Homo sapiens: one gene and its partner. The protein of the gene in region 2 interacts with the protein of the main gene of each other region in a pairwise test. Each region holds a gene or a part of one and is shown on either strand. Other genes may lie near its edges. The genes, in order: HEBP2 and LRPPRC.

The links.
Region 1: the proteins of LRPPRC (region 2) and HEBP2 interact in a two-hybrid assay, tested with the Homo sapiens proteins (one study listed by BioGRID).

The regions. Positions count from the first base shown.
Region 1 is NC_000006.12:138,405,843-138,416,890, forward strand, and holds part of HEBP2 (heme-binding protein 2), read left to right. Parts: intron 1-128; coding exon 129-309; intron 310-7,037; coding exon 7,038-7,236; 3' UTR 7,237-11,048. UniProt on the Homo sapiens protein: Can promote mitochondrial permeability transition and facilitate necrotic cell death under different types of stress conditions.
Region 2 is NC_000002.12:43,885,900-43,896,947, forward strand, and holds the end of LRPPRC (leucine-rich PPR motif-containing protein, mitochondrial precursor), read right to left. Parts: intron 10,810-11,048; coding exon 10,735-10,809; intron 8,731-10,734; coding exon 8,646-8,730; intron 4,464-8,645; exon of another isoform or gene 4,324-4,463; intron 3,978-4,323; coding exon 3,835-3,977; intron 2,758-3,834; coding exon 2,701-2,757; 3' UTR 325-2,700; downstream 1-324. UniProt on the Homo sapiens protein: May play a role in RNA metabolism in both nuclei and mitochondria. In the nucleus binds to HNRPA1-associated poly(A) mRNAs and is part of nmRNP complexes at late stages of mRNA maturation which are possibly associated with nuclear mRNA export.

The DNA of each region.
Region 1 (11,048 bases), on a different chromosome or scaffold from region 2:
AAAATTATCTTAAAGGTAAATATGTCAACAATGTGAAGTAAATCAAGGAACCCAGATCAAAAAAGAATAGGTTAAATGTTTAAAGCTGTCAAAAATACACTAAATTTGCTTTCATTTTTATGTCACAGAGATGAAAATAAAGATGACAGCTCCAGTGACAAGCTACGTGGAGCCTGGTTCAGGTCCTTTTAGTGAGTCTACCATTACCATTTCCCTGTATATTCCCTCTGAACAGCAATTTGATCCACCCAGGCCTTTAGAGTCAGATGTCTTCATTGAAGATAGAGCCGAAATGACTGTGTTTGTACGGTAAGTGGTAGATAATTTATAGCCTTGCTGACTGCTAGTTTTACTTGCGTGCACTCACAGTTTAGCTCCAATGCAATTTCAAAAGGCTTTTTCACCCTTCCATAAAATCAGGTCTAATGCATTTTGTGATGTTTTCCTACTGGCTTTGTTGTATATGTTACTGAGGTCTGTCACAAGATAATAATCACTTCATTTAATGAGTCTATTGCATGCCCTTCATATAAGACACGGTGCAAATTATATGCTCCCAAAACAAAAGACTGCAATATAGTTAGACCTGAACAAAAATACCTTAAAACAGAAGTCTTAGTTTGTTCAGGCTGTTGTAACAAAATACCGTAGGCTGGGTAGTTTATGAAAAACAGAAATTTCTCTCTCACATTTCTGGAGACAAGGAAGTTCAAGTTTAAGGTGCTGGCAGTTTCAGTGACTGGTGAGGGCCCGTTTCCTGGTTCATAGATGGAACCTTCTCAGAAATGCCCTCATGTGGTGGAAGAGGCAAGGCAGCTTTATTGGACATGTTTTACAAGGCTCTACCCTCATGACCTAATCACTTTCCAAAGGCCTCATCTCCTAATACTATCACATTAGTGATTAGGTTTTCAAAATATGAATTTTGAGGCCCAGCACTTTGGGAGGCTGAGGCAGGTGGATCACTTGAGCCTGGGAGTTAGAGACCAGCCTGGGCAACATGGCAAGGCCCCATCTCTACCAAATGTATATATATATATTAGCCAGGCCTGGTGGCACATGCCTGTGGTCCCAGCTACTTGGGAGGCTGAGGTAGGAGGATCACTTGGGCCCAGGAGGTCGAGGCTGCAGTGAGCCGTAATTGCACCAATGCACTCCAGCCTGGGTGACTGAGACCCTGTCTCAACAAAAAGAAAAATGTATATATGAATTTTGGGGAGACACAAACATAGAGTTCATAGCATTCTGCCCTGATCCTGTAAAATTCATATCATCTCACATGCAGAATACATTCATTCTATCCCAATAGCCTCAAAAGTCTTAATTCATTCCAGCAAAAGCCTAAATTCATCTAAAGATCATCAAAATCAAATCTGAGGCTCAAGGTACAGTTCATCCTGCGGCCGATTCCCCTCCATCTATGAACCTGTGAAATCAAACATATTATATGCTTCCAAAATACAATGGTGGGACAGACATAGGATAAATACTGCATTCCAAAGGAAGAAATGGGAAAAAAGAAATGGGTAACAGGTTCCAAGTAAGTTCTAAATCTTCAGATTAATTTTCTTTGACTCAAAGCTCTTCCCTCTGGGCCCACTGGGATGAAGGTCCCACTTGTGAAGCTCTGCTGAACAGAGGTTGGGCCCCCAAGGCTTCAAGTGGCCCTGGCCATGGCTTTGGATGGCCCAACCCCACTGCAGCTCTCACAGTTGGAGGGACCCCACCCTGCAGCTCTACCAGGCTCGAATTGCACACCGGTGGCCCTCCCAGTCTGGTGTGCCCGGCTCCCATGGCTCTGTTAGCCATTTCCCTATTGGGGACTCACTGCAGTAGCTTGGTCTCACTGTGGCCCTCTGCTTGGGTCACATACCCAAGGCCCTGGGCAGCTCCATCCTTCAAGGTGGAGGTAGCCACACCCCCACAGCTCATGTACTGACAGAGGTCGGCACCACATGGATGCTGCTGAGGTTAACTGCCTGTGCCTTCCGGAGGGACAGACATCACAGCCCAGGCCACACCTCAGCCCACTGGAGCTGAACCTGGGGCATCCAAGGAGGGCTGCACTGGAATGCAGGAAACAGATTGGTGAGGCAGTGCTAGGCAGTGAGTTCCAAGGCCCCCCAGGTGCCCAAAGACCCTCCTTTGAAATTGTTCTGCCCTCCCCAGGCACTGAAACTTGGCATGTGATGGGAGAGGCAGCTCATAATTTCTAAAATGCCTTTGGCATCGTTCTTCCATTATGCTGGAGAATAGGTCCTGGTTTCTGTTTAGATGGCAGTTCCACATTCATCTCCTTATCAAAGGGTTGCTTGGCCTTACCCTTGTTCTCTCTTGAACAAGCTTTCTCATTTCTTTTAATGTAGATAGGCTAAGAATTTTCCAGATGTTTAAGTTCTGCTTCCCTTTTGATTAAAAATTTACTCTTTAAATTCTCTCTTCTTGTATTTTACTATCAAGAGAAGCGAAGCCACATCTTCCATTCACATTTTGCTTAGAAAATGTTCAGCCAAATATCCTATTTCATAACTCACAAGTTGTACTGTCCACATTACACTGGGACACAAACACAGTTTCTTTGCCATGTCATGACAAGGGTCACCTTTCCTCCAAGTTCCAACAAATGTTCCTCATTTCCATCCGAGACCTTATGAGAATGGCCTTTACCGCAAATCACCATGATCTGGTATGACTCCCACTCTCTCCTTAGACTGCCGTTGCCATCCTCAGCAGTGCCTCTGTATCTGCCACGTGGTTACTGTCCTCTCCCACATGACCCTTACAGCAGTCATGTGTGGACGAATCTGTTCCCTTAATACTTGCTTATCCTTTAACTTTCAGAGTGTCACTCTCTTGTCATTTCTCCTGTCCCATTTCTTTACCTCCGTTGGCTCCTCAGCTCCCTACCCTAGGATCACTGTCGATGCCTGTTTTAGACCCTCATTTCATAGCCGACTTGTTCTGGGCAATCCATTCATATTGCTTCAACTCCCTCAGTCGAATGATTCTCCCATCTATTAAGTGTCTCCAGATCTGATTTCCCTACTTGTTGGACATCTCTCTTTGGGGTTGGGGGAATCAAACTCAACAACCCTAAAAATGAGCCTTTGCCCAATTCCCACATCTCTGATCTTATAGTGCCTGTCTCAGTTGAGGGCCTCATCAGCCAGATAGGCTCCTCTTTTTTTTTTTCTTTTTTTCTGAGACAGGGTCTCGCTCTGTTGTCCAGGCTGGAGTACAGTGGCATGATCATAGCTCACTGCAGCCTGGAACATCTGGGCTCAAGGGATCCTCCCACTTCAGCCTCCTGAGTAGCATGTGCCACCACCATGCCCAGCTAATTTATTATTTTTTGTAGGGACAGGATCTCACTATGTTGCCCAGGCTCGTCTTGAACTCCTGGGCTCAAGCAGTCTACTTATCTCAGCCTCCCAAAGCATTGGGTTTACAAGCATGAGCCACCATGCACAGTCAAGACAGCTTCCTGAGCAAGGAATTTACAGTCACCATCAGCACAATGTTCCTGACAATTGATTGTCAAATCTGGCCCATTCACCTCAAAAATGATTCAGGGTTTTGTTCCCTCCTCTCTATCACCATTGTGACTTACTCGGGTCTTCCTCTTCTAGGGACCGCACTAAGTCATCTTTGTGTACCCCAGTTCTTGGCACAAGCCTGACATTCCCAATAGATACTGGGATGTTGATTGATCTTAACTGAATTATTTCTTGACTATTTCACTTCAGTAGCCTGCAAGCCGTCTTCCCTGCCACCAGTCTTTTCCTTTCCTCTTCCACACTGGAACTGTCATCTTTCTTACCACAATGACAAAAGCCCAAAATCTCCGTTGGATTCCTCTTGCCTCCCCAGGGAAGCTCAGATTGTTCACACGGTGCACAGTGCCACATATGACCTGGCCCAGCCCTGTCTCAGCAGCTCCCCTTCCCACCACTTGGGCTTCTCACCCTTCATGTAACATGCCATGTTCTTCCACATCTTGTTACCTTTGACCTCAGGCACGTTAGTCCACTTTTCCTTGCTAAAATTTCCCTGTTTTAAAATGCGTGTGATCATAATACTTACTATCTCATAGGGTTGCCATGAAGATCGGATGAGTTAATTTATGTAAAACACTTGGAACATGAGCATCAAGCATTCCTAGCTCTAGTACTCTCTTTTTCCTCTTCCTGGAGAGCCCATTGCCACCCTACAGGACAAATGACACCTTTTCTGTGATGCCTTCTTCAATTTCTCCACCTAGCTAGGTACTCTGTCCTGGGGCCCTTCTATTCTTCTTCTTCTAAGTAATAGTGGCTTATTTATAGACGGAAATTTCTTCAAGAATATGACAGCATGTTACTATGTCCATATATTCCAGCCCCTGGCAAGGCAGGCACGTGGGGGTGAGGGAGGCAAGCACCATATATGTTGTCTGTGTTCTGAATAAAACAGTGAATAGATCATTGTGAAACAACACACAGTCAGAGAACAAAAGCTTATTTCTAATTAGAGGGTTCAGTATTTGATTTTAAGGGAAAATGAATTTGAAAACAAATTCCTTTTAGGCAGAACATGCTAAGCATTGGTTATTCATCAAGGAAATAAATAATACATTTAAGAGCCAAAATGTTTCTTTCTTTTTTTTTTTTTTTTTCTGAGATGGAGTTTCACTCTTGTTGCGCAAGCTGGAATACAATGGCGCAATCTCAGCTCACTGCAATGTCCGCCTCCCAGGTTCAAAGTGATTCATCTGCCTCAACCTCCCGAGTAGCTGGGATTACAGTCACCCCTCCTCACTATGCCTGGCTAATTTTTATATTTTTAGTAGAGACGGGGTTTCACCATCTTGGCCAGGCTGGTCTGGAACTCCTGACCTCAGGTGATCCACCCGCCTTGGCTTCTCAAAGTGTTGAGACTACAGGCGTGAGCCACCATGCCTGGCCCAAAATGTTTCTTAACCCATGGTTCAGAATTATATTCAATCGACATGAAAATGATAGAATGGAAGAGTTATATCAACTCACCTGCAGTGTTTTATTTTGCATACATGTGCATGCAGAGATTCCTACACTTGACAGGATTAAAAGGGAACTGCATGCCAGGAATGGTTCTGGGTGCTGGGTAGACATTGTTATATAAAGCAGACATGGTTTGTACCCTTAAAAGAGATGACACCTCAGCTGAAGCGTGGTAGGATTGATTTTTTGCACTGGCACATTGATAACAGAACTTATACCAAAGAAGGCATATTAGGAAAAGTTTTGTTTCTCAGTGTTTCTTATTCTTAACCCTCAAAATCAAATTCATCATGCTTGCATGTCAGCAGCTCAGCTAGGTCAGTGCTGTCATGATTTAATCTCAGGATGTTTTTGTTTATATACTGTAGAATGTATACTTAAACTTTTATTCTCTTTTCCCACTTTTTGTTTTAATCTTTTGACTGTCTTTTCTTCCACTTCCCCACAGCAGCCTCCTGACTGGATCCTTCCTCACCAGTCTATTATATGTCTGCCTATATTCTAATCCAGATCTTATCAAGTTGCACATTTCAGCTCAACATCCTTGGAAATAACCTCAAAAGGCCTTAGGCTAATGCACAGGGTTCTTCCTTCTAGTTCTGACTCACCTTCCTGACCTCATTTTATGCCTCACTATGAAAACACTTGGTATTTTTAGATTTATGGTCTCTTTCCTATCACTCCCCTTTCTTTGTTCAGCAAAACCATCCTCCATTCAGGCCCAACTCAGATGATTCTCCTTACCCCAGATTTAATCAGGTCCTCAACGCTCCCACAACACTTTGATCCTGTCCCTGTTTAAAACCCTTCTCAGAGGCCGGGCGTGGTGGCTTATGCCTATAATCCCATTGCTTTGGGAGGCCAAGGCAGGTGGATCACTCGAGCTCAGGAGTTTGAGACCAGCCTAGGTAACACAGTAAGACCCTGTCTCTACAGGTTTTTTAAAAAATTAGTCCGATGTGCACCTGTGGTTCCAGCAACTTGGGAGGCTGAGGTGGGAGGACTGCTTGAGCCCAGGAGGTCAAGGATGCTCTGCCACCATATTCCAGCCTGGGCAACAGACAGAGTGAGACTCTGTCTCAAAAAAACAAACAAACAAAAAAACCTCAGGATGTATAGAGAGAGCTGCCAGAACGTTGATCTCTTCCATTGGATCATAAATTCAGAGAGGTGAAAACTGTATCATATTCATCTGTAATCCAGTGTTTATTCTTTTCCTTAGGAGAGGGAAAAAGGGGCAATGTGCAAGTGAAAATCGAGTCTGGAAAAGGGGCTTCTACAGGGGTGTTGGTGTAGTTCTCTGATCAGCAGCACCGGCATGGATGTGGGAGCTCGGAGGAAATACACTCTCAGGCCCCACCCCAGACCTGAATCTGCATCGTAGCAAAATCCCCAGGTGACCTGTATGCACGTTAAAGGTTTGAGAAGCACAGGGTAGAGCACTTGAGATTGTGTAGGTTCCAAATCCACCTGTCAACAGATGGAAGGAGGGGATGCATCCTCCTGGGTTTCCTCAGTGCTTCTGAGGTCACATGGAGACTGGGAATCACAGGCAGGAGTGGTCAGTTCATCTGCTGAGAGGGAGTAGCTTTTTTTATTTTTATTTTTTGAGAAAGAGTCTTGCACTCTGTCGCCCAGGCTGGAGTGCAGTGGCGTGATCTTGGCTCACTGCAACCTCCACCTCCCAGGTTCAAGCGATTCTCCTGCTTCAGCCTCCCAAGTAACTGGGACTACAGGCATCCGCCACCACATCTGGCTAAGTTTTGTATTTTTATTAGAGATGGGGTTTTACCATGTTGGCCAGGCTGGTCTTGAACTCCTGACCTCAAGTGATCCGCCCACCTTGGCCTCCCAAAGTCCTGGGATTACAGGTGTGAGCCACCTCGCCTGGCCGAGAGGGAGTAACTTTGGAGCTGCACTTCACTCAGCATTCACGGTACTAGCGCCCGCTTTTTGCTTCAGACTGACATTCACATCAGTATTAAAATCATTCACGGTTATTTCCTTTCTCCTTTGTAGGTCTTTCGATGGATTTTCTAGTGCCCAAAAGAATCAAGAACAACTTTTGACATTAGCAAGCATTTTAAGGGAAGATGGAAAAGTTTTCGATGAGAAGGTTTACTACACTGCAGGCTACAACAGTCCTGTCAAATTGCTTAATAGAAATAATGAAGTGTGGTTGATTCAAAAAAATGAACCCACCAAAGAAAACGAATGAGAAAAATGAAAGGAAGTTCTGCTGTCAGAGGCAAAACATCTGTTTATCATAGACATCAACATGACCTATAAGTAAAGTGCGTGTCTAGTGTCTTCTATTGAGAGTACTACTATTAATTAAGCTTATTTCCAATGTGCCTTTTTAATGCTTGAAGTTTTATCTACATACACAGGTAACAGAGGACAGTAGTCTGTAAACATATAAATCGGTCATAACTATCGTGGTCTTTATTTCTGTGAGGATCTAGGGAAATTTCATGTCACTTCCCTCCTTCACTGCATCACAATCATATTCCCTTTTTTTTTTCTTGGATTTGTGTCAGTTGGATGATATCCCCTCCAGATAGTATCAATAAAATGTTAAAATTATTTATCTTGTGTGGAACCCCTAGGCTGTCAGGCCCGGAGAGGTGAAATTCAGCTGGACACAAAAATCAAATTGTCTTTTGTGGCTGCCACCATTACATTCTCTGTTGTATGTATTACTTTCCCTCCTGCATCCTCCCACTGCCCCACTGCACAAGAATACTCCATGTAACTCCATTTAAATGTAATGAATTCATTCCTTTCTTTCTGGTCTCCACTTAACCCCCTAAAAATCTTGCTTTTTCCCCTAAACATTTCCCTGAACTGTCACGTATTTTCATTCATTCTTTAACTCATTGTAGGGAGTCCCTGCTATGTTCCAAGCACTCTGCTAAGGACTGGGAGGTGGTGGTAAGAAAACCTGTGTCCCAAGCCCCTCATCACTGACTTCCTCTTCACTAACTCCAACAACATCTTTCCACCTCCTTAACTATTTCATTCACCCTCCCACTGTGAACACCACAGACAAGGCCCCTGGCCTCATGGAGTTTACATTCTAGAGGGTGAGGGAGTTCAACACAAATAAGATGCTTGAAATTGGCAAGTGTGATGAAGAACAGAATAGGGCAGTGGGGTAGAGTGTGGTTAGGTAGGGTGTGGTGGACATCACATAAGGTGGTCAGCAAAGGCCTCTCAAGAGACAGTTGAGACTTGAATGACGAGGATGAGTCAGATGAAAGCCAGGGGCAGAGGTGAGGGGAGCATCTTGGGCAGAGGTGACAGTGTTAAAGGGAGAGGCCACGTTCAGTACCCAGAACAAAAAGCTGCACACACTGCTTGCTGAGCAAGAGAGCACTGCTCTTGTAGGGCACGGTCTCTCGGATAAAGAAAACTGCGGACCTTATGCAGGGTTTTAGGAAGGATTAACAGACTTTCAAAAGCATTTAGGAGTCGAGGGAGCTTTAGTTGTGGGGATGCAGTTACCAGAGTGAGGCCGCTGCTGATTAGCATGATTTAGAAGCCTAGTTTGGAGGTGAGGTTACTGATGGGAAATTGTCATTGATTGTTTCTGGTACTTAATTGCTACTGTGGCCAAAGGATGGTCAGTTTTATTCAGGATTTGAAGTGGTGGCAGACAACGTGAGGTGTGCCACTCAAATTCACCTTCAAGAAAGTACCAGCCGCCCAGCTGTGAGGGGTGTGGTTCGCCGACAGTCTCCCCGTTACCGTCTTCAGGGTCCACGCCAGATTTCAAGATAAGGACACACTATTCTGTGGGAGAGAGGGACCTAGTCTACAACTGAGCAAGGCAGTGGTAGCTGACAGCATGCTTTTTTCTGGCAATTCCCAGCCAATAACTGAGCAAGGTGGTGGTATAAGACCTAGCCATTTAGGCCAGGTGCAGTGGCTCACAGCTGTAATTCCAGCACTTTGGGAGGCTAAGGTGGGAGGATTGCTTGAGCCCAGAAGTTCAAGACGAGTCATGGCAACCTAGTGAGACTGTCTGTCCAAAAAATAAAAAATTAGCCAAGCGTGGTGGCACACGCCTGTATTCCTAGCTCCTGAGGTGAAAGGATTGCTTGAGCTCGGGAGGCGGAGGTTGCAGTGAGTCCTGATCATGCCACTGCACTCCAGCCTGGGTGACAGAGCAAGATCCTGTCTCAGAAAGAAAAAAAAAAGTCCTAGTCATTTCTACCAACTCGAAAGCCCTCTAATAAGCAGTCTCTGCTCTGGAGCTTTTTGGTGGGCTGCTAGAGACTTTGTTAGATCCTACCGTTCCTCTGCTCAATCCTGCTTTTCCCTTTTCCTTTCAGAGATGTCACTTCACCAGTTTTGTACTCCTAACTCCATCTCAGCCTAAAATTGGCACAATTGGTACCAGTGGCCCACGAACGTAGGTGGTAAGACAGCATTTGCAGGCTGAGTGACTCACTGTCTGGCTGGCTCGGAGGCCCCCATCCCTGGTGGATAGGTGGCACAGACAGTCCCTGGCACAAGAAGGCTGTCCAGTGATGAAGACTTCAGATGAAATGGCATGCTGGTGCAGGGGAACGCAATGACTGGTGGGTGATTTGGGTGTCTCAAATATGGGAAGGGTGGATAAAAGAGACAAGGACAGTGGGCTTCCATGGTTATTGCTGAGTTGGATTGACGTCCTGCAAGTGGATAATGAAAAGCTGAGGTCAATTAACAAACAAAACTAAGTGTGAGCCGCAGAGTCTCTGTGGTAGCTTGCCAACAATCCTCATCTCATGCTGTAGCCAAGCAGAGCAAGCTGAAGGCCAAGCACAGGATTTGATGGTAAAAGTAGCTAACAGCCAACAAATACTCAACCAAGCCAGGTCTGTTAGATCAAGGTTGGAATCAAACTTGGGATCCCAAAACATGGGATGGGAGCATTTAGTGGATCTCCCCAACCATCTGCCTCCCTAGAAAACTCCCTGAATATTCACATCCTTCAGAAGAGGCCCACCCTTCCCCATGAAGAGCTGGAACTACCCTCCCTTCCTGCCTCTTCCCTAACACAAGGGAAGACAGTGTCCAAGGTCTTTCCCCATGAAGCAAAAGGTGTCCCTCAGGACTGGTCCCTCCCCTTCTCCTGGCTACCAGGCCTATAACGAGACTTAAGTCACAACATAACTGATTGCGGCTGAGGGGTCTGATGAGGGAGAAATGGGATCTATGCCAGAGGAGCCACCTAACCTGGCAGCATGTACTGCAGGGGCCAGGGGCGTACTCTTGGGACTGGATCCTGAGGGTGCTTGGTCAAAGGGGCTGGGTTTATACAACTAGATAAAGGAGAGGGTATATTGACTTGGGGCTCTCAGGATAGAGGATTTCACACCATGAGAAAAATGCCAGGAGATAATACAGACTCACTGCTCTAGGGCAGCTTGGTAGAAGCCTAGAAAGAGTGATCAAAATGTTGAAATGCCTGAATGGCTGGGACAAACAATAGAGAAAGGAATGAGAAGGCTCAGGGAAGGGAGCATGCCAGCATGGATATATGAGGCAAGGTGACCCATCAGACAATTATGTTCCACGGGAAGGCCCAGGGGACCCATCCTTCAGCAAGGCTGCTGGGAATGCACTGATAAGCGGGCTTGGGCATCATAAAGGAGCTCAGCGGTGGCTCTCCTCGGCAGGCTGGGGCTGGCAGGAAGGGCTGTGATGGAACTTCACTTGCTGAGAGCAATGTGGATGATGATGAGACCTTGAAGAGCCCAGGTGGCAGTGCCAGCCACAGAAGCCAGGGTGCCATCAGTATCCTGTTAACCACTAAGCTCCAAATGGCAGCCGAGGGGTCCTGACCTGTAAAGTCTCATGGAAATAGTTGGTAGAACAAGGCATTCCTAGGGACAAAAGAGCTGACTAATCAACAAGGGTAAGGCTTTATATATAATCAAAAGTGAGCAAGAATTGATGAGCAGGGGACTGAGAGAGATCACTCCAATTAAAAAACAAAAACATGATTCCTTGCCAGTTTCTAGTTCAGTTTTCTGACCT
Region 2 (11,048 bases):
AAGGTGCCAGTTGGGTGCAGGGCCTCGTGCCTGTAATCCCAACATTTTGGGAGGCCAAGGTGGGCAAACTGCTTGAGCCCAGGAGTTCAAGACCAGCCTGGGCAACCGGACAAAACTCTGTTTCTTCAAAATACAAAAAATTAGCTGGCCGTGGTGGCATGCACCTGTAGTCTCAGTTACTTGGGAGTCTGAGGTGGGAGGATCACCTGAGACTGGGAGGTCAAGACTGCAATGAGCCGTGATCACGCCACTGCTCTACAGGCCGGGCAACAGAGTGAGACTGTTTGTTTAAAAAAGAAAAAAAAAAAGCAGCAGCAGCCCACAGATATTTACAGTATACTTTATTCAAAGCATTTCAGTTAAAATTATTTTGGGTTCAAATACATGAACATATAATTATATATAAAATACTATAGTTCTCAATAGTTTACAGTGACATCTTTTTTAGAATTAGCTGCTTATAATTTGAGTGTAAATGTATTACAGAAAGCTGCTAAATTGTTTATATTTCTACTTATTTCAATTTAGCTATTAGATATTTAGAACACTCATAAGCCCACCTACAGTATAGTTATTATACTTTAAATATTTATATTCAATAGGGGAATCAATACAATACAAAAGATATTTGAACAGCTAGTCCTTTGTAACACCCCCCCGCTGCTGCCGAGAGGGCTAGATAAGGGGGTCTTACCTATTTCCTCTGTACCACACTCACATTTTACCAGAGTCCATATACAGGGCCAGTGTGGAGTCACTTCATGCAAATGAGATGGTACTTTCAGTTTCCCCAAAAAGATGACTGCGAAATCCAGATTACACCCCAACGTTATGCCTCACCTTGGAGACCTATTCTAATGAATGTCAATTAGTGAATGTTGACTAACTTGTGGTTAGCATGACTGCAAAAAAATGAGGCCTGCTTCAGTGCAATCACTAAAGACAGGAGTGAGGCTCTTGGCCAGGCGTGGTGGCTCACACCTGTAATCCCAGCACTTTGGGAGGCTGAAGCGAGCGCAGGGGGAGGATCACTTGGGGCCAGGAGTTCGAGACCAACCTGGCCAACATGGTGAAACTCCGTCTTTACCATACAAAAATTAGCTGAACATGGTGGTGCAAGCCTGTAATCTCAGCTACGTGGGAGGCTGAGGCACAAGAATCACTTGAACCCAGGAGGCGGAGGTTGCAGTGAGCTGAGATTGCGCCACTGCACTCTGGCTTAAGCAACAGAGCAAGACTATCTCAAAAAAAAAAAAAAAAAAAAAGATGCTTTTGGCAAACCTGTAACATGTGCAGGTCCTGCATCTGGGCAGTGCTCAAGGGAAAGCCGCACTATGTCCACTGGGCCAAGACTCAACGTTGGCCATGCCCCCTGCTTCCTTAAATCTAACGCCACAAAAAGAGTTGAAGTAAAAGCCTGGCCAATACCATGATGACATCTACTTCCTGGCTTCCCGCCATCAACCCTCCCTCACACCATCTGCGGGCAGGTAGCAGATGCAGGAGAGAGAGTTCCACAAGACAGAAGGTCAACAGCACAAGTTGCAAGAGGCCCGCCTACGTCCCCAAGGCAAGGTCTCCCCTGATGTGAACAGTGTGACCCAAGTTGGCACTGAAACTGGAACAGTAGGGAGTCACCAAATTCAAATGAACAAGGAATACCCCAAAATGGGGAGAGTTCTCAAAACATTTTCAACATTTCGGTAATTAATTACCTCATCTCCAGTTAGGTCAATATTCCATATTATTAAGACACCTTTTATAATGGCAAACTCTCCTGACTACCTATCTTAGAATTTTTTTGAAGTCACTACTTACAGTGTAGATATTAACAGGCATGAGATTCAATATAGGGATCACTTTTATTTCAAACAATTAAATACAAACCAATATTTTACCCCTTCATAGATGAAATCACATCTTTTCAGGATATGAGTATAAAGTAACAAGCCTAGGGCAGAGCTTGTACTGACAAAGTCCTGAAACTACAATGAGAGGAAACACATTGCTCTACTTCGGGATAAGTCATGACCGAGACTCAATTTCAGAGACGCTCTATGAACAGAGGTGCTTGAAGCCACAGTGGCAGAAGGGAAAGATGGGGAAGTGTGCCGAAGAGCCTCCAGGCATGACAGACAGTCCCCTGACCAAGCACAAGTAACAGGCCCTTTGGGTCTCTGCTTCTCACTGGAAAATGATGAAGCCTAGATCTGATGACTCCTAGTGCCAACATTTAACAAAGTTCGAAAGTTATGCAGGACTTCACACATGTACGGAATGGCTGTATCACAGAATATTATGCGTTAGAAAGTTCACGGTCACTATACCTAGCTCTAAAATTTTTCAGAGAAACAGCAGACTAATAAGTGAATCTTAAATAAAGGAATAACATTTTAATGAAATAAATGAAACAGAGCAGGGAAACCAAAGAGCCAATTAGGGGAAGAATCCTGAAAAAGTATGGCTTCACACAGCAGCAGCATTGAAGAAAACACTATCGATTTTTCCCAGAGAAAAAAACTCCAAAAATGTCCAATAACCAAGTGCACAGAGTTATGGTCAATAAGACTTTGAACATGCATCACACATACATAAGTACATAAAGAAAATTTTCATTTATTTTTCCCTCAGATATACTTCAAAATAACATGTAGACACAGAATCACAAATATATACAAAACAAAGTATCGCCTGGTTATTTCAAGAAGAGTTTTCCCTCAATTTTCTTAGCTGCTGTGCATAAAATTCAAAGCTTTCCTGTTAAGGAGAAAAAAAGAGGGAAGTTAGAGATACCAGCAAGAGGTGATGGTACATAACTTAAAAAATCATAAAACACTACCAACTGGTAGCTAAGACTGCCAGGCCCATGGAAGATGCTGCCCCTCAAGCTTCAGTACTCCTTCCTTGTTTCATGAAATCACAAGTTCAAGGGCCTCGGGTTCAGAGTTAAAGCTAGCAGCAGGAGGTAGGGTGCGTGTGTGTATACGTGTGTATGTGCAAGCATGTGTGTGTGCACATATGGAGGTATGGGTATGGAAGGCTGAGGTGTTTGAAATAAACACGGTGTATTGACTCAGTTCAATGACATAACAAAAAGGAATTGTGCATATGTGATTTCTCTTATTAAAGAAAACATGCCGGGCACAGTGGCTCACGCCTGTAATCCCGGCACTTTGGGAGGCCGAGGTGGGCGGATCACGAGGTCAGCAGTTCAAGACCAGCGTGGCCAACATGGTGAAACCCCATCTGTACTAAAAATACGAAAATGTGCCAGGCATGGTGGCAGGCCCCTGTAATCCCAGCTACTTGGGAGGCTGAGGCAGGAGAATCGCTTGGACCTGGGAGGCGGAGGTTGCAGTGAGCCGAGACCGTGCCATTGCACTCCAGCCTGGGCAACACAGCGAGACTCCATCTCAAAAAAAAAAAAAAAAAAAAAAAAAGGCAAAATTTCCTAGACGAAGAAATAAAAACCAACTTATGTAAATGAACAAGTAATTACCACTGACATAATATGCTTGGCTGTTGAACTACAGGCCATTAAATCCTATTTCAAGTTGAAATGAGAGAACTGCCCCAAGGACATTTGGTAAATCCATGCCTATAGCTGAAGGTCTGAGACAGACCTTGTATTTTAAACTGTGGCCCCAGAGAGCTATGTTCTCCGACTGCCGCAGCCAAGGCATGCTGCTCAGTCCCTCAAGCCATCCCCTGAGGGCTCTTCACAGAGATCTAATCCTCATGTAATTAAGTCTTCAACTTATTTTCTTACACATTGTTATGAAGTGCACATAAATCTGCAGAGGTATTTTTTCCCCTTAATTAAGAAATACTCACAGGGGGTTCAATGAAAGGGACAGGCTCTCCAGCATACTTCAGCAAAGATGCGTAACGCTTTAGAAACAGATCATCCAATTTTGTATTCTTTGCAGTCAAATGTTCATACAGTGCTTTAGCAGATGTGACATCTTTCTCTGAGACTGACATAAAGAAAAAAATATATTAATCAGAGATAAAGACAACCTATCTTACTCTTTTCACCAAAACAGCCACTCAGGGACGGCTGGATCCCTTTATCCCACGGCAAATGAACACTTAACTACTTTCAGTAAGAAGCCACATTCAGAATCTACCATCTCCCTCACTTCTCTACATCCCTCATTCGGCATCACTCACTTTGAAGGAGAAGAAAATGACAAATATGGCTACATTTAAAGGACTTTAGAATAATATTGATACCATTCACTTAGGTTATTACATTATTTAAGACCTATGATAGTTCAAGTGACCACAAACTGAAGTCCTCAGTTATAAAATAATACACACCATTCAATCCCCTTTGGCTTAAAACCACTGTGAAATCAAGATAATCCAGGAACTGTTGTGGAGAGGGACATGTCAATTATGTAGAAATCTACATCAACATCAAGATCATCAGCTCAACATCAAAAAAGCTTTTCATTTTTCTATTGTAAAATAAACAAATATGGAAAGTATAGTTAGCTACAATGATACACACACACAAAAAACCTATAGGCCGGGCGCAGTGGCTCACGCCTGTAATCCCAGCACTTTGGGAGGCCGAGGTAGGCGGATCACGAGGTTAGGAGATCGAGACCATCCTGGCTAACATGGTGAAACCCTGTCTCTACTAAAAATACAAAAAATTAGCCGGGCGTGGTGGCGGGTGTCTGTAGTCCCAGCTACTTGGGAGGCGGAGGCAGGACAATGGTGTGAACCCGGGAGGTGGAGCTTGCAGTGAGCCGAGATGGTGCCACTGCACTCCAGCCTGGGCAACAAGAGCGAGACACCATCTCAAAAAACAAACAAAAGCAAAACCTATAAGGAGACATTAACAAGTTACACTAGTTTCACTTAAGTGAATGATGAAATATGTTAGGAGCCAAATTTGGCTGGCTCTCTACTTGTGGCTGATTTGTGGAAATTTTTTAGTTTACCATGGAGATGGTAAGGGCTCTGCTAACAATTACTGCTGGTAATTCAACTCCTTAATTTTGCATTAGATTGTTAGCATCTAAGCATCACATAAACCCCTGCCCTACACTGACTCTGATATTGTCAACCGCAACTCCGGCAGCACCAGGGGAACCCCTAAGACAGAGGTGAGACGTTCAGCAATCAAAGAGTCTCCCAAAGTGGAATGAGGGTGACTCATCAGCTCTTAGTGGAGTTGGAACACATCTTTGCTGTTTCCATGAAGTCAACTTCTTGTGTAAATCCTTTATTTCCCTTCCTGAGGAGCTGAACCCTTTAAGGGCTCAAGCTCTATCTTCTAGGAAGCTGCTCCGAAAATTCTGGCATCTTGCCTTTCTTTACTTCTTGATTTTCTACCTTCCTCCCAAAATGGATTACCTAATTTAGTAGTAACACACACAGATTTATGCGCTTGACACTATTTCACATTACAGGCATACCTTGGCTTTAATGCACTTTACAGATGTTGCGTTATTTACAAATTGAAGGTTTATGGTAACCCTGCCTTGGGCAAGTCTATCAATGCCATTTTTCCAACAATATGTGCTTACTTTGTGTCTCTGTGTCACATTTTGGTAATTCCTGGAATATTTCAACCTTTTTCATTATTGTTATATCTGTTACGGTGATCTGTGACCAGTGATCTTTGATGTTACTATTGTAATTGGGGGATGCTATGAACCATACACATGGAAGATGGCAAACTTGAGAAACGTGTTCTGACTGCGATGCTGACTAGTAATTCTCCTGTCTTCCTCTACTCAGGCCTCCCTATTCTGAGACACAACAATATTGAAATTAGGCCAATTAAAAACCCTATTATAGCCTCTAAGTGTTCAAGTGAAAGAGTCATACATCTCTCATTTAAATCAGAAGCGAGAAATGAAATGATTAAGCTTAGCTTAGTGAGGAAGGCATGTCAAAAGCCGAGATACGCTGAAAGCTAGGCTTCTTGCGTGGAACAGCCAGTTGTGAATGCAAAGGAAAAGTCCTTGAAGGAAATTAAAAAGGTGCTACTTCACTGAACACACAAATGATAAGAAACTGACACAGCCTTACTAGTGACATGGAGAAAGTTTTATTGGTCCGGATAGAAGATCAAACCAGCCACAACATTCCCTTAAAAGCCAAAGCCTAATCCAGTGCAAGGCCCTAATACTAGCAGAGGCTGGTTCATGAGGTTTAAGGAAAGAAGCCATCTCCATGACACGAAAGTCCAAGGTGAAGCAGCAAATGCTGATGCAGAAGCTACGGCAGGTTATCCAGAAAATCTAGCTAAGACCACTGATGAAGGCGGCTACACTAAACAACAGATACTCCATGTAGATAAAACAGTCTTATATTAGAAGATGTCATCAAAGATTTCATAGCTAGAGAGGAAAAGCTAATGCCTAGCTTCAAAGGACAGGCTGACTCTATTTTCAATGGCTAATGCAGCTGGTGACTTTATGTTGATGCCAATGCTCACTTACCATTCCCAAATCCTAGGGCCCTTAAGAATTACGCTAAATTTATTCTGCCTGTGTTCTATAAATGGAACAACAAAGCCTAGAGGACAGCATGGATGTTTATACATGGTTCACTGAGTATTTAAAGCCTGCTGTAGAGACCTACTGCTCAGGAAAAAAAAGATTCCTTTCAAAATATTACTGCTCAGTGATAATGCACCTGGTCACCCAAGAGCTCTGAAGGAGATATACAGGGAGATTAATGTTGTTCTCAGGTGCCCTAATAAAACATCCATTCTGCAGCCCATAGATCAAGGAGTAATCTTGACTTTCAAGTCTTAACACATTTTGGGCTCACTTCGGCAACACATATACTGAAATTGGAATGATACAGAGAAGATTAGCATGGCCCCTGCACAAAGATGACACGCAAATGTGTAAAGCGTTCCATGTTTTAAACATAAAATTAAAAAAAAAAAACATGTTTCATAAGGCTATAGCTGACACAGACAGTGATTCTTCTGATGGATCTGGGCAAAGTAAACTGAAAACCTTCTGGGAAGGGTTCACCATTTCTAGATGCCATTAAGAACATCTGTAATTGATAGGAGGTCAAATTATCAACATTAACAGGAGTTTGGGAGAAGCTGATTTCAACCCTCATGGATGAACCCCTTGAGGGTCTCAAGATTTCTGTGGAGGAAATCACTGCAGATGTGGAAATAGCAAGACAACTAGAAGGAGAAGTGGAGCGTGAAGACGTGACTGAATTGCTACAATCTCATGATCAGACTTAACATGAGGAGAAGCTGTTTCCTATGGATGACCAAAGAAAGTGGTTTCTTGAGAAGGAATCTACTCTTGGTAAAGATGCTGTGAACACTGTTGAGATGACAACAAAGGATTCAGAATATGACATAAATTTAGTTAATAAAGCAGTGGTATGGTTTGAGAAGATTGATTCCAATTTTGAAAAGACATTCAATTGCAGATAAAATGCTAACAAACAACATCGCATACTACAGAGAACTCTTTCGTGAAAGGAAAAGTCAGCTGATGTGGCAAACTTTATTGTTGTCTTAAGACATCTCAACCTTTAGCAATCATCACCCTGATCATTCAGCAGCCATCAACATTGAGCCAAGACCTTCTACCAGCAAGATTATGACTCACTGAAGGCACAGATGATCGTTAACTATTTTTAGCAATATCTTAAAATTAAGGTATGTACTTTTTAAAAACATAATGCTATTGCACACTTAATACACTACACTATGGTGTAAACATAACTTTTATATGCACTGGGAAACCAAAAAATTCATGTAACTTTGTTCATTATATTTGCTTTATTGTGGTGGTCTGGAACCATATCTTCCAGGTATGCCTGTGTTTAGTTACTGGAAATTTGATAAATTTTATGACTATTAGCTCTATTTTGAAATAATACAGAATGTTCTCCCTGTAAGGACGGAAAAAGAGAACTGACTTACTAATTCTGATTCTTGAGTCTGTTGTCCTCCCATAGATAAAATCAATGAAGCAATTCTTTATTTACCCCATGCCTCCAGTGAGCAAATCAGTGGGCCACAGATGGAGAGGTGATCATGATTGAGAAATGCTAACATTTATTTTGATGACTGAGGAAACTTTAGACAATTTCCTTTCATATGTGATTGTCTGGCAATCAGGGAACAAACTGGTTAAAAGACCAGAATTTGAACTGGGACGTAAAAACCTTGGGCTACTTTTTAATCAAGGGTCTGTCATTTCAAAGGAGTAGCAGGCAAGCAGAGAGGGTACTGAAGGAGCAAGAAGGCCAGTTAAGTGAGTCTCAAATGTGTACTTGTTTCAGGTGGCAGGCCCTTGGGGAGACTGAACTGGTTTCTGATATATAAGTCCAAGAGGATTTCCAGGTCTTCCCAGGAGCCTGGGATTCTACTCAATATACCCGGACTGCTCGGAAGATGTTCAGTGATACTTTTTAATGTTAAAGTTATATGCATAATTTCATATTTTTCTTAATAGTTTAAAAACATATTCCAGAACTGAGTTATTTATATCATAATTATCTGATATTTAGGATTACTGCCTTTGAGCTGAAGACTAAGACTTAGTTCACTATACTACAAGTCATTTACATGATATAGTCACTTAAATAATAAAGCCATTTAAATAAATAATATAGTCAAATTAAACTTATATTACCATAGCTTTTCATGAGGGAATTGTATGCTTCTTCCTTTTCATTTAATTCAGGAATCAATTCTAACACAGATTTCACAGTTGATGCCTAGGAAATTACATAAAGGTAATATTATGAAAACCGCAAATTAACAGTGAATTAGAACACTGACAAATCAACACTATATTAAAAATTTTCACAATAATTATAACAGAACTACCTATTAAATTTAATGCACTATTGTCCCTTGTATATTAGCATTTGATATTGACTCAATAATCTACAGCTAAAAGAAACCAGCATTTTTCCACAGGTTAATGCAATTCCACTTACATTTCTATGAATATTTTTCTAGAATATGATAAACACATTGCTTCTTTTGTCAAGTGGTGACCATACCAAGAAGTTATGAGATCCCAAGGGTAGAGAGATAACAACCCTATCTTTAGGTGCCACAACTGGTTGATGAAATTGTAAAGAATTCAGTTAAAACATTCTGAAGTGTTACACACTTGACATACAAAAAAGAGCATTTCCAGAATCTCACTGAAATTTTTACTTATTTCTTCCAGGAATATGCAGACTCGGCTATGGCTTTATTTCCTGTAGCGAGTGAATACAGAACTGCTATGCCGTAATGAATATCTGCTGAGTATTTCCCGCCCTACTCCAACGTTACTGGATAAACCCATGATGGATATATAAACATCTATGCCCTCTTCCCATCTCACCAAGAGGAGCAAAATCTGGCTTAACTATTCTACTGTCAAGCAATGGAACACTGTTAACAGGCATCTTAAAAATCCTAACTCCTTTCTATAGCATGTTTATTCAGTCAATCCACACCTGGACCTGCATCCTCCCAGGGCTTCTTCTATTTTAAACTGTCCTGGGTGGGATGTTCTAAGCAGACATATTGCCGTGCATTTCCCGTCCCATCTCCTGGACAAGGCAACAGGGACTTGGCACAGTCCCACAGGTGGACTGACAAGTGCTTTTCAGATTCCTTATACTTTTTAATCACACGTATAAAAACACAGCCTCTCTGAAAGGAAAGAAGGGGCAATTAAATATTTTCTAAAAGTTGTTGGTAGTAAATAAATACATGAGTCACAGATGCAATGAAGCAAATTTTTTAAAAGTGTAGGTATATCTAGGGGAAGGGTGTAGAAATTCAGGAAAACGTAGACCTCCCAAACTGGACACAGCCTAAATGTTTCAAATAAAACAAGCATCACAGTTGGCATGTGGTTTGAAACTTCATAAAGAACCCAAATAAACTAAGAATGTAGTTTCTCGTATACAAGAGGTAAAATCCGATCTAAGAGAAATTTAATTTTATACTTACAGTTAAACATCAAAGTAGAATGTGATATACCTACTATGTACCCACAGAAATTTTTTTTTAAAAAATTTTTTCAAAAGGACTTGGTTCTATTACATACCCACCCACCCCTTTTACAGTGTAAATAAAGTAACTGCACAAATTAGAATTAATTTGTGGCTCCATATCAATTTGAAAGCCAAGTGGCTCATTTACCTGATGGTTTATACCTGATAAATGCTCAAAAGTAGCCACGTGCTAGGAGACACTCTGGAGTGTACATTTTCCTTGGTAGTGCTTCTGCATTGTTAAATGTCCCAAGGTGACCGAAGCAACATAATTTTAATCTTCCATTTCTTTCTTTCTTTCTTTCTTTCTTTTTTTTTTTTTTTTTTTTTGTAAAGACCAGGTTTCGCCATGCTGGCCAGGCTGGTCTCAAACTCTGAAACTCCTGACCTCAAGTGATCCACCCGCCTCGGCCTCCCAAAGTGCTGGGATTACAGGTGTGAGCCACCATGCCCAGCCTAATCTTGCATTTTTTAAGGGCCTTTTCTTGGGGCTCTCAATGCATACCTGTGTAAGTGGAAAATTCCTGCGTGAACTTGTTTTACATTTCCAGTACAGCTAACAGACGACAAAACTGACTCTAAGTAGAGACAAGCAAAGTCTTGAATCTCTATAGTATTCTCAAATAAGGTCCTGAAACAACAGGCTTTTATGTTAAATTCAATACTTCTGAGCAAGGCACGTACAGTATCATTGATTTGTAAGCAGGTAAAGCACAGTACCTTTCCTTGTTTCCTAGAATTCCTAAGGAGGAACAACAACAAAATCGGGGTTTGTTCAGCAATTGCACCACATCTCTAAAAATTAAAACATTATTCAGTAAGTGAAGGTTTCTGATAAACAAGTGGATCAAACTGAATATTTCCAATTAAGAAAGTTCACAATAATACAGTAGTGTATTATTACCAATAGGAAGGCCTAATAGTCGACTATTATTTTTTAAGGCAAGAAAAAAGAAAACAAGTGCAAGCTATGCCAAGCTTTGGTGAATGCTGTCCTTGGCATTGCAAGTATAAAGTTTGTTTAAAAAGAAAAG